Linked DNA regions of Homo sapiens. The protein of the gene in region 1 interacts with the protein of each later gene in a pairwise test. Each region holds a gene or a part of one and is shown on either strand. Other genes may lie near its edges. The genes, in order: C1orf94, CCNJL and MVP.

The links.
Region 2: the proteins of C1orf94 (region 1) and CCNJL interact in binary tests that used the Homo sapiens proteins (3 or more experiments, as listed by UniProt).
Region 3: the proteins of C1orf94 (region 1) and MVP interact in a two-hybrid assay, tested with the Homo sapiens proteins (one large-scale study listed by BioGRID).

What each region holds. Positions count from the first base shown.
Region 1 is NC_000001.11:34,179,821-34,183,471, forward strand, and holds part of C1orf94 (uncharacterized protein C1orf94), read left to right. Parts: intron 1-3,651.
Region 2 is NC_000005.10:160,305,920-160,309,570, forward strand, and holds part of CCNJL (cyclin-J-like protein), read right to left. Parts: intron 1-3,651.
Region 3 is NC_000016.10:29,830,374-29,834,024, reverse strand, and holds part of MVP (major vault protein), read right to left. Parts: intron 3,552-3,651; exon of another isoform or gene 3,511-3,551; 5' UTR 3,476-3,510; coding exon 3,351-3,475; intron 3,148-3,350; coding exon 2,952-3,147; intron 293-2,951; coding exon 169-292; intron 91-168; coding exon 1-90. UniProt on the Homo sapiens protein: Required for normal vault structure. Vaults are multi-subunit structures that may act as scaffolds for proteins involved in signal transduction. Vaults may also play a role in nucleo-cytoplasmic transport.

The DNA.
Region 1 (3,651 bases):
CTGTGGAGTCAAGTGGGCTGGTTGCTGGGCCCCAAAATCCATTTCAGCCAGAGCTGTTTAGCTTTTATCAGTTTTACTTACTAGAGTTCTGAGTAGGGCTGAATTTGAAAAACATGTTTCTGCTATTGAGAAAAGAGATAGGAAACCAATGACTTAGACGAATAAACGACATCCTAATTGTCAACCAAATAGAACACAATGAGCTATTCTTAAAATAAAGGCGGTGTGCTGGTGGAGTCAGATAACTCTGGTTTCAGATTCCATTTCAGCCCCATGCCATTTGAAGAATTTGTTACTCTTTAATTTATCTAAACTTTGGTTTCCTCATCTGCCAAATGGAGATTAATACTATACATTTTGTAGGGTTGTTGGAATGATTAAATGGGATATTTAAACATTTATGGTAATAATTCAGATTTGTAAAAATTCCTTGCAATTCAGATGTGATCATTTCTTTAAGCTCTACAATTATTGCATGAGGTAGGTACTCTTTTAAACTTTCCATCTCTTTTTACTTTTTATTATGCAAATTTTCAAACACATAGAATAATAATATGGTGAATATCTATGTGTCTATCACTGAGTTTCAATAATTATCACATTGTGCCATTCTGGTTTCAATTGCTACCTCCACCCCTCCATTTATAAGTGAAATTACTTTTACAGATAACGTGGCTGAGGTTTGGAGGGGTTAATTTCTTTGCCCAAGCTCCTACAGTTAGGAAGTAGTAGAGTTTCAGAAATGAAACCCAAGACCGCCTTGGCCCTGAGGCAATAATGTCGGCTGTCCTGTCTTAGAATCTGGGGCATCTTTGAATAGTCAAAATAGTTGGGAGTCCCATATACTGAATGATCACACACAGAGTGAAAAGCCAGGGAGCTGTTCTTACTATTTCTAGAATGCCTTCAGGTGCACAAGATATCTCTCAGCTGGTCTTTCTGCTGCTTAATTTGTAGACCTGGTTTTGGTGGTGTTTTCTTGTATTGTGGTAGATAGGTAAGTGCATTCTACAATTCTTTTTGGCCAGAATTTGTTTTTCTTGACTCTGCACCTATTTATCATAGGAACCTAGACATTTCAAATTTGAAAGAGATTTTTGAAGCCATCTTCCGCTGCTCGAATCCCCTCCTTACTGTCCCTGCCAAGTGGTGCACTTGTACCACTTGGTACAGTTTATCAGATGGGGAGCTTACCACTTCCCTTTGCTGCCCCTTCCCTTGCTATGAACCCCCTCAAAATACCTTTTGCTTTCTATCACTGAAATATGTCTCTATCAAACTAATTCCCATTGATCTGGATTCTGCCCTTAGTACTCCAAGCCAAATCTATGTCTTTTTTCTTTCGATACCCCTTTGGATAGTGAAAGACAGCAAGACAGCAACAATATTCCTCCCAGAATGTTTTTGTCTCTATAAGCTAACCACCTCTGGTTTTCTAAGTTTCTCCCCATGTGCCAATTTGGTTAGTTTCCTGTCCACACTGTTGGTCCTTGTGGCAGTGTAACTTTGAAAGCCAAGTACAATAATCCAGGGGTGATCCAATCCATGCAGATTTGATCCTCCCTGTCTGCATTCTGTTTCCTGTTAATGACAACCAATACTACACTCACTTTTTTCCCCAAGTCGACTTTCACTCTGTGGACACATTTTCAATCTCTTAATTCATTCATTCAATTATTCATTCAACAGATATTTATTAAACATCTACTATATGCTAGAACTGTGTGAGAAACTAGGGGGATGGAGCTGTGAACTCCATTAATCCCTGCCTTCCTAGAGCTCACATTCTAGTATAGGAGAAAAAAGAAGCAAGTAAATACAAAAGCTATGATATCTTCAGAATGTGAAAAGAATGGTATTCCCAGTGGAGGAGACCCATAAGAAACACACAAAAATAAACAAGATAATTTCAGTGACAACTGTGATAATGGAAATAGAGCAGAGGGAAGTGATAGGAAGAGCTCCTTTAGTCTGGGTGTCAAGGAAGGCTTCTCTGAGGAGATGTGATTATCTGGGCTGAGACCTGGGTTCTAAGAAGGAGCCAGTCAAGGGAAGTTCTGGAAAGAACATTTGGGCAAAATGGAGAGCAAGGGCCAGGCATGGTGGCTAAAGCCTGCAATCCCAACACTTTGGGAGGCTGAGGTGGGCAGAACGCTTGAGCCCAGGAGTTCAAGACCAGCCTGGGCAACATGGCAAGACCTCATCTCTACAAAAAATACAAAAATTAGCTGGGCATGGTGGCACACACCTGTAGTTCTAGCTACTCGGGAGGGTGAAGCGAAAGGAACACTTGAGCTCAGGAAAGTCGAGGCTGCAATGAGCCAAGATTGCACTACTGCACTCCAGCCTGGGCGACAGAGTGAGACCCTGTCTCAAAACAAAACCAAAAGGAAAAGCAAATGCAAAGACTGTGAGGTGGGAGTGAGCTTTGAGAGGGACAGCGAGACGGGAGAGTCAGGAGGGATGGGGACATGGCCATGGTATAAGTATAACAGAGACAGGCAGGCAAGGCCTCAGGAGGCCTGGAGGATCACTGCGGGGAGTTCAGATTTTATTCCACATGTTATGGAACACTTTTGCAGGTTTTTAGGAAGGGGTGTGACATGAACAGATTCACTAATGTTTGAATCTCTGTCCAGCTTCTGTGTGGAGATGGTTTGTAAGTGTGTGGGAGAGGAAGTGGGAGGCCTCTGGGAAGATACTGTCAGAGTCCAGGGGAGGCCTAATGGTGGCAGTGGCTGGGTAGGAGTGACTGCAGTAGGGATGGAAAAAGTGGAGGATTCAACTGTGTGTTTTAAGATGAGCCAATGGACCTACTCATGATTTGGGTACACAAACAGACACATTGAGGCTCATGCTCTGCTTCACGCACGAGTTCACTTGACAAACAAGGATGGGGGCATGCATCACTATCAATGTGACTGGGGTGTTGAGACCGAACACTGGCAAACTCAAGGTGGGGAGTGTAGGGCCTCAGAGCAAAGGATTCCAACCTGTGGCCCATGGGGTCTCTGAAGTAATTCCCCAAATGCTGAGAGCTGGGAGGATGTCTTTCCGGCAAAAGGGTGTAGAGAAGCTTTCCTCAGATTTTCAAAGAGGTGTTGACCCCTCCAAGAGGAGAAAACACTAGCCAAGAGCATTAGACTCCAAAGATCTCCAGAGCTGGTTTCTAGTCTAAGACATCAGCCTGAGTTCCATGTCTGAGTCTTGTCTTTATCACTCCCATCACCAAGTTTCAAGCTTTCAAAATAATAATGATAATAAAAGAGGCTATGTATTCCAAGCTTGAGCCCCTGGTTGGACGGTGTGCCATTTACAAAGGTGGGGAAGAAATGGGGAGCAATGGGTTTTGGGGGAGAAATCAATAGTTCTGTCTAGTGCTGATTTAACTCCAAAATCTGGTTCAGTTATCTTTTAGTTAGTCTTAAGTTTGGGCTTAGAGAATTGTGGCAAGCCACTTATTCAAGGATTACTTATTCATTCATTCCCCTAATCTCTAAAACTTCAAAGCCTCAGAATGAGGTCTTTGGATTTGCTGTTGACTCCGTTGCCCTAACTACAGAATGACATTTGTTCATTTCTTCATTCATGAATTCATTCAACAAACACAATTGCCTTCGCAGTACCAGGCTGTATGATGGGTCCCAGGGA
Region 2 (3,651 bases), on another chromosome or scaffold:
TTTTGGAAGATCTTTGCATAGATTCAGTCACAAATCAAACATCTTTTATCTGTCCACTGGTTTAAGAAATGTGGCCGGGAACAGTGGCTCACGCCTGTGATCCCAGCACTCTGAGAGGCCAAGGCGGGCGGATCACCTGAGGTCAGGAGTTAGAGACCAGCCTGGCCAACATGGTGAAACCCCGCCTCTACTAAAAATACAAAAGTTAGCTGGGTGTGGTGTGCGCCTGTAATCCTAGCTACTCGGGAGGCTGAGGCAGGGGAATCACTTGAACCCAGGAGGCAGTGGTTGCAGTAAGCCAAAATCATGCCACTGCTCTCCAGCTTGGGTGACAGAGCAAGACTCCGTCTCAAAAAAAAAAAAAAAAAAAAAAGCGGTCTCACAGAGCTGAAGTCCTCTGAGTGTGCAATGAAGTAAGCTTCAGGAAGTGGGAAAAAATGCATTAGGTGGCTGGTTGCCCTGCAGATCTCAAGTCTGGAGCAGGATGAGAAGACCCCTAAGGTATCACATGACTCCCGTCTTGGGAGAAGGTAAACACCCAGTGGACGAGAAGGAGGGAGCCCCTAGCCCCTGGCTCCCTGGAGCCCAGGAAGATAAAGTTACCAGCTCATGTCAAGCAGAGCTTATCAACATGGCTTTGGGAGGGAGATTTTTTTCCCCTAAGAACTCCAGAAATCCCTGTATTCAGAAAGTCTTCTACACACTCATGAAGCCTTAAGTCACAGTGGTGTGTGTCTTTGCTTACTAACATAACTATTTCCTTCTAATTGGAGAGGGAAGACTATGTGTAAAATGGGCATAAATCAAAAGGAGACGAGTGCAAGTTCTATCTACTTTGCTGCTCAGAAAATTCAGGAAGAAAAACAGGACCTCCTGTTAGAAGTCTGGGAGGAATTATCTACATTTCTGTTATCTGGGCGCAACCTGCAGTTATTTTCCTAAGATCCTTAAGCTGTACTTTGGTCCAGGCCAGTAAATCTGCCCTTGCAGGTAATTGCTTTTCTAACTTCCTGCCCCATGTTACCTGACAGGAGAACATGCAGGTCTGTAGGAAGCTGGGGTGGCATCCTCCATCAACCAGATCCTGTGCTGGGCACCACAGTCAATGCTGTGCCCACACACACAAAGACTGTCCTGGCAGATGCCGAAGACGAGATGAAGGATTCCCAGGAAGCATCCCTGCACACAAGCATTCATTCAACATTTCCCAGAAGAGTCCATTTGGGGCTGTCTCACTCTTTTGTGCACTCCCAATGCCTGTGCCTGCATCAGGTGAGGTGGGGGACACCCTGAGGTCCCTCTCTGACTCAGACACTGGTCTGGGAATGCCAAGGTAACAAGGCACACCTCATACCTGCAAGGAGCTCACAGTCTAGTGGGTAGGACAAGTCACTATGCAGGGTGACAAAGATGGTGAAAGAAGCAAGGATGAGGGTGGGGCCAGGACACATGACAAAGGAGAGGCTTAAGGGACAAGGAACGTGGCCCTCAAGCTGCATACCATCCAATGCTCTCGTTCCATCATGTGTAACCAGCACTCACCAAAATCTGTTAGTTCTTGGATTCAACACCCTATTAATTTTAAACTTAGGTGGATGCATCTTTCAAGAAAAAAACAAATGGCCCCGAGTTTTAATCTGGACAGACCTGGCACAGACTTGGTTACCAGAAAAACATCACTAGCAGCCTCCTCACTGGTGACGCCAGCCTGGTGACAATCTACTCCTCCTTTTGGTTCAGGGAAGAGGGTCAAGGGGCACACGTAGCAGGCAAGAAACCCCACATCCCTGTACTGGCTGGCACTCCCACCCCCAGCAGAAAGGTCAGAGGAGCTGAAGGGAGCGGGGTCCTAGGTGGGCTTCTGCAGATGCAGCAGGGACAGGAAGAAGGATCCAAGGAGGAATTTAAGGGCTGAGCATGGGATAAAGGTGGCCTACAGGAAGGGGAGGGAGAGATTTCTCCAGAGCAATTTGGGCTGGAGGAGGGTTCAACTCCCCACATTCACCCATTGGGATGCCAGGCTGCTTAGAGGGTCTTACCAATGGGGTCTCACTCCTGGTTCCCAGCCCTCAGTAGATACATGATTTTTGGTGAACTAGTCCCTTTCCTGACTTCAACACCATCATAGGACCAATGGTCCAAGTGGCTAACAGTGCCTTTCTTACAAGGATTACCCATCACATCTGTGGACCCCTTGGAGGGTGGTCACAAACCCTAAGCCTTACTCTGAGCAGCACTATGTGAACGGGCCATCACTGTCTTGCAGCAACCCTAAGTGGAGAGGTGCAATGCCTGCCAAGTACCCACCATGCACCTCACACTGTTCTTAAGTTATCTCACTTAATCTTAACATTGCTGTAAAACGTTTCTCCCAGCTTACAGAAGAGGAAAGCGAAGACTGACTTATTCATTCTCCTTGTCATTCCATACACATCGGGAAGCTGTGTTCATGGCACTGAGGCCCCCGCAAGGAAGAAGACAGACACAGGTCTCTTCTCGTGTAGCATGTATTCTAGTGTGGGAAGAAAGGCAGCAAACAAACGAAAAATAACTTCAGGCCAGGCACGGTGGCTCACGCCTGTAATCCCAGGACTTTGGGAGGCCGAGGCTGACGGATAACGAGGTCAGGGGTTCTTCGAGACCAGCCTGACCAACAGGTGAAACCCCGTCTCTACTAAAAATACGAAAATTAGCTGGGTGTGGTGGCACATGCCTGTAATCCCAGCTACTCAGGAGGCTGAGGCAGGAGAATGGTGTGAACCCGGGAGGCGGAGGTTGCACTGAGCTGATAGTGCCACTGCACTCTAGCCTGTGCGACAGAGTGAGACTCCGTCTCAAAGAAACCAACCAACCAAACAAACAAAAAACAGAAAAACACTTCAGATCCTGGTAAATGCTACAAAGAAAAAGCAAGGTGATTTAATAGAGTGACATGGAGAGGCAGCAATAGATTAAGGGAGACAAGCAACCATGTGAGAGTCTGAGAAACACAGAATCCAAATAGAGGAAAGAGCCAGTGCAAAGACCCTGAGACATGAACAAGCTTGACTTGTTCCAGGAACAGAAAGGAGGTCAGTGTGGCTTAAGAGCAATGGCATGGAGGGTAGGGAAGGGGTAAGAGACAAGGTCAGAGAGCAGGCCAGAGCCAGGCTATGCTGGGTATTCCACGCAGTGGTAAGGACTGGGAATTTTAAGTGCAGTGAGATGACATTGGAGGTCTTTAAGCAGAGAATGACACAATCTAAATTCTGGCTATTCTGGGAAGAATGGATGATAGGGGCCAGATTTAGAGAGGTTAAATGAGCAGATCAGGGTTTCACTTCCATCACTAGCGTGCATGCAGTACCAAGACTTGTTTCCATGGTGTCAAGTTTTTGATACCCTGTAGTATGATGCCAGACTGGAATCTCATATTTGACAAACTGGGGCTCCCAACGTCTCAGTGATCTCAACTTCGCCTCCTGTGTCGGTCAGGTGAGGATAATTGCTTGTGGTTGTATGGAAACAGTTACACAGCACATATGTAAACATGCTTTGTATTCATCAGGCAACATTCAACTAAGAGTGTCTACTGTGTGCCACGCTCTTGTAAAGTTGTTCTACAGTGTTAGAAACATATTATCAGAGTAGACATTTGAGAAAAACAATTAC
Region 3 (3,651 bases), on another chromosome or scaffold:
GGGCCCTGAGCCGCAGAGCCTGGTTCTGCCTGATGATGGTGGCCTGAATGATCTCCACGACCTCCACTTCCTTCCGGGGGATGTACGTGCCTGGGGAGGGAAGGTGATGGTCAGAAGGTATCAGGGCTATGACAGGAAGGCAGGGAGCCCTATGGAGACAGAACTTACCAGGTCCCTCGAAAAGCCACTCATCTCCTGCCACCACCTTGTCTCCATCTTTATCCTCAAAATCAAGCAGCGCCTTTAGATGGAGGGCAGTGTTGGGCAGAACCACCTGCAGGGGTGTGATGTCCTAGTGGGGAAGAAGGTGGAGACACAGAACCATCAGTGCTGTGACCCCAGGGCCAAGCCTGATGCTCTGGAGGCGGGTCCACAACATCCATCTCTGTATGTCCTGAAATAAGACTGGGGTGGAGGCCGGGCACAGTGGCTCACACCTGTCATCCCAGAACTTTGGGAGACTGAGGTAGGAGGATTGCTTGACCTCAGACATTCAAGAACCAGCCTGGGCAACATAGCAAGATCCCATCTCTAAAAAAAAAAAAAAAAAAAAAAAGTGTAGCCAGGCATGGTGGCGGCGCACACCTGTAGTCCCAGCTACTCGGGAGGCTGAGGTGGGAGGATCACTTGAGCCCAGGAGGTTAAGGCTTCAGTGAGCTATGACTGCACCACTGCACTTCAGCCTGGGCAGCAGAGCAAGACCCTGTCTCAGGAGTTCAGATGAAGGAGAAGTTAGAGAAGGCCCTTTGAACTGAAACTGGGGCTCAAAGGAAGAGCTGGCTTTTTTTTATTTTTGGAGATGGGGTCTTCCTATGTCATCCAGGCTGGACTGCAGTGGTACAACCATGGCTCACAACAGTCTCAATCTCCCAGGCTCATGTGATCCTTCTGTCTCAGCCTCCTGAGTGGCTGGGATTACAGGTGTGTCACCACCCCCAGCTAATTTTTTTTTTTTTTTTTGAGACAGAGTCTTGCTCTGTCACCCAGGCTGGAGCGCAGTGGCGCAATCTCAGCTCACTGCAATCTCCGCCTCCCAGGTTCAAGTAATTCTCATGCCTCAGCCTCCCAAGTAGCTGGGATTACAGGCGCATGCCACCACGCCTGGCTAATTGTTGTATGTTTAGTAGAGATGGGTTTTCGCCATGTTGGCCAGCCTGGTCTCAAACTCCTGACCTCAAGTGATCTGCCTACCTTGGCCTCCCAAAGTGCTGGGATTACAGGCGTGAGCCACTGTGCCCGGCTGAACATATTTAAAATGAAAGCTTAGGCAGGGCTTGGTGGCTCACACCTGCAATCCCAGCATTTTGGGAGAATGAGGTGGAAGGATCGTTTGAGCCCAGGAGGTTGAGGCTGCAGTGAGCTATGATCACCCCACTGCACTCTCGTCTAGGCAACAGGGGGAGATCCAGAAAAAAAAAAAAAAAAAAAGGCCAGGCGCGGTGGCTCACGCCTGTAATCCCAGCACTTTGGGAGGCCAAGGCAGGTGGATCATGACGTCAGGAGATCGAGACCACCCTGGCTAACACGGTGAAACCCCATCTCTACTAAAAACACAAAAAGTTAGCCGGGTGTGGTGGTGGGCGCCTGTAGTCCCAGCTACTCGGGAGGCTGAGGCAGGAGAATTGCGTGAACCTGGGAGGCAGAGCTTCCAGTTAGCCGAGATTATGCCACTGTACTCCAGCCTGGGCAACAGAGTGAGACTCCATCTCAAAAAAAAAAAAAAAAAAAAAAAGGTACAAGAATCCCTATATACTTTTCACTTGGATTCCTTAAGGGTTATTGTCTTAATCATTCTTCATTTTCTCTCTACACACACACTTCTTCCCCCAAACTGTCTGCACCTAAGTGGACATGAATGTCTCTAAAAGTTCCCCATGTTCTGCTATTATGCTTTCAGGATCAAGCAGCACTGGTTAGTAAAGTCAGTAAGAAAACCATTAAATGGGGCTGGACACGGTGGCTCATGCCTGTAATCCCAGCACTTTGGGAGGCCGAGGCGGGCGGATCATGAGGTCAGGAGATCAAGACCATCCTGGCTAACACGGTGAAACCCCGTCTCTATTAAAAACAAACAAACAAACAAACAAAAAACCCAAAACCATTAAATGGCCAGAAGGTAAAGGTGGAAGAACAGGTAAAGGAATGAAGGTGGGACACCCACCTGCTCAGGCCCAGGCCTGAGGCCAACGGGGACAAGAGCCTGGCTGTAGGTTCAGGCCTGTGATGGCTTCTCCTAGAACAGGCACAGCCTGGGGCCTGGGCTTGTCACTGCTGCTTTGGCACTGCCCACCAGTGTCTGGCACCGGGTGAATGAACTGCTTAACCTTGGCACATGTCATTTAATGCCAGACTGGCTGGGCACTTCTGGTAGGCTCTGGAGCCTGGGAAGGTGAGATGGGCCAACAGTTCTCAGAAAAGAGGCAGGTGTGTTTGGGGCATGTGTGGAGGATGGGGGTGGCTGGAGGTGAGTGGAGGTACAGTGAGTCAATTCCACCCTTGGTGAGAGCCAGCAAGTGTCTCTCCCCACCCCTCCCACTGCCCTGGTTTGTTTTCCCTTTAGAACTCGGTACAGGCCGGGAACAGTGGCTCATGCCTGTAATCCCAGCACTTTGGGAGGCCGAGGCAGGTGGATCACCTGGGGTCGGGAGTTTGAGATCAGACTGGCCAACATGGTGAAACCCTGTCTCTACTAAAAATACAAAAATTAGCCGGGCGTGGTGGCGGGTGCCTGTAATCCCAGCTACTGAGGAAGCTGAGGCAGGAAAATCACTTGAACCCAGGTGGAGCTTCCAGTGAGCCGAGATTATGCCACTGCACTCCAGCCTGGGCGACAAGAGTGAAACTCTGCCTCAAAAAAGAAAAGAAAAAAAGAAGAAGAAGGCAGCAGTATAGAGCCCAAGGCAGGTGGAGGACAGGTAGGGTGGGGCATAGGGAGTGAGGAAACCAGGTACCTTTTCCAGCACCTCCCCTGGGTACAGGGGGAAGGGGTCCTGGGCCAGCCGGATCTCGAGGTCAGCGTGGCGAAGCCGAACTTGCCCTGTGACATCAAACAGCACCAAGCCCTGGGCATCCCGAGACACAGGGTTGGCCACTGTGCAGTAGTGACGTGGGGGGACGGTCACCATGCGCATGGGGGCAAACAGTACCCTGCAGGAAGATGAGAAGAGGTGTGAGGACCTGGGACCAGGTCTCCACTACCAAAGAGGACACCAAATGAGAGAGAAACCTCTCTATCGCCCAAGCGAGGGCCACTCCTGCTTGGGAAGAGGGAGGAGGATAAGGACCATCATGCCAGCCAAACAGGCCCCCACATCCCCAAGGATCCCCCACAGCCCAGCCCCCACACCCACCTCTCATTGTCCTGCCGGATGTAGGTCTTTGGCCCGACCTCCACACGGGACACGTTGCTGTTCTGGTCCAGCACATGGATATAGTGGTATGGGGGGATGCGGATGATGAACTCTTCAGTTGCCATGGTGACTCCTAAGCCCAGGGCTCACAAGAAGATGACTGGTAGGTGGGGGAGACGACACAGGATGAACCTGGGGAGCCTGGGGTGGGGCAGGCATGAATCTGGTGACAGACTCTGGGTGGGATACGGCCCTACCTCCTCCAGCCAGGCCACTGCACCCTTCCCTGTCCGCATCTGCA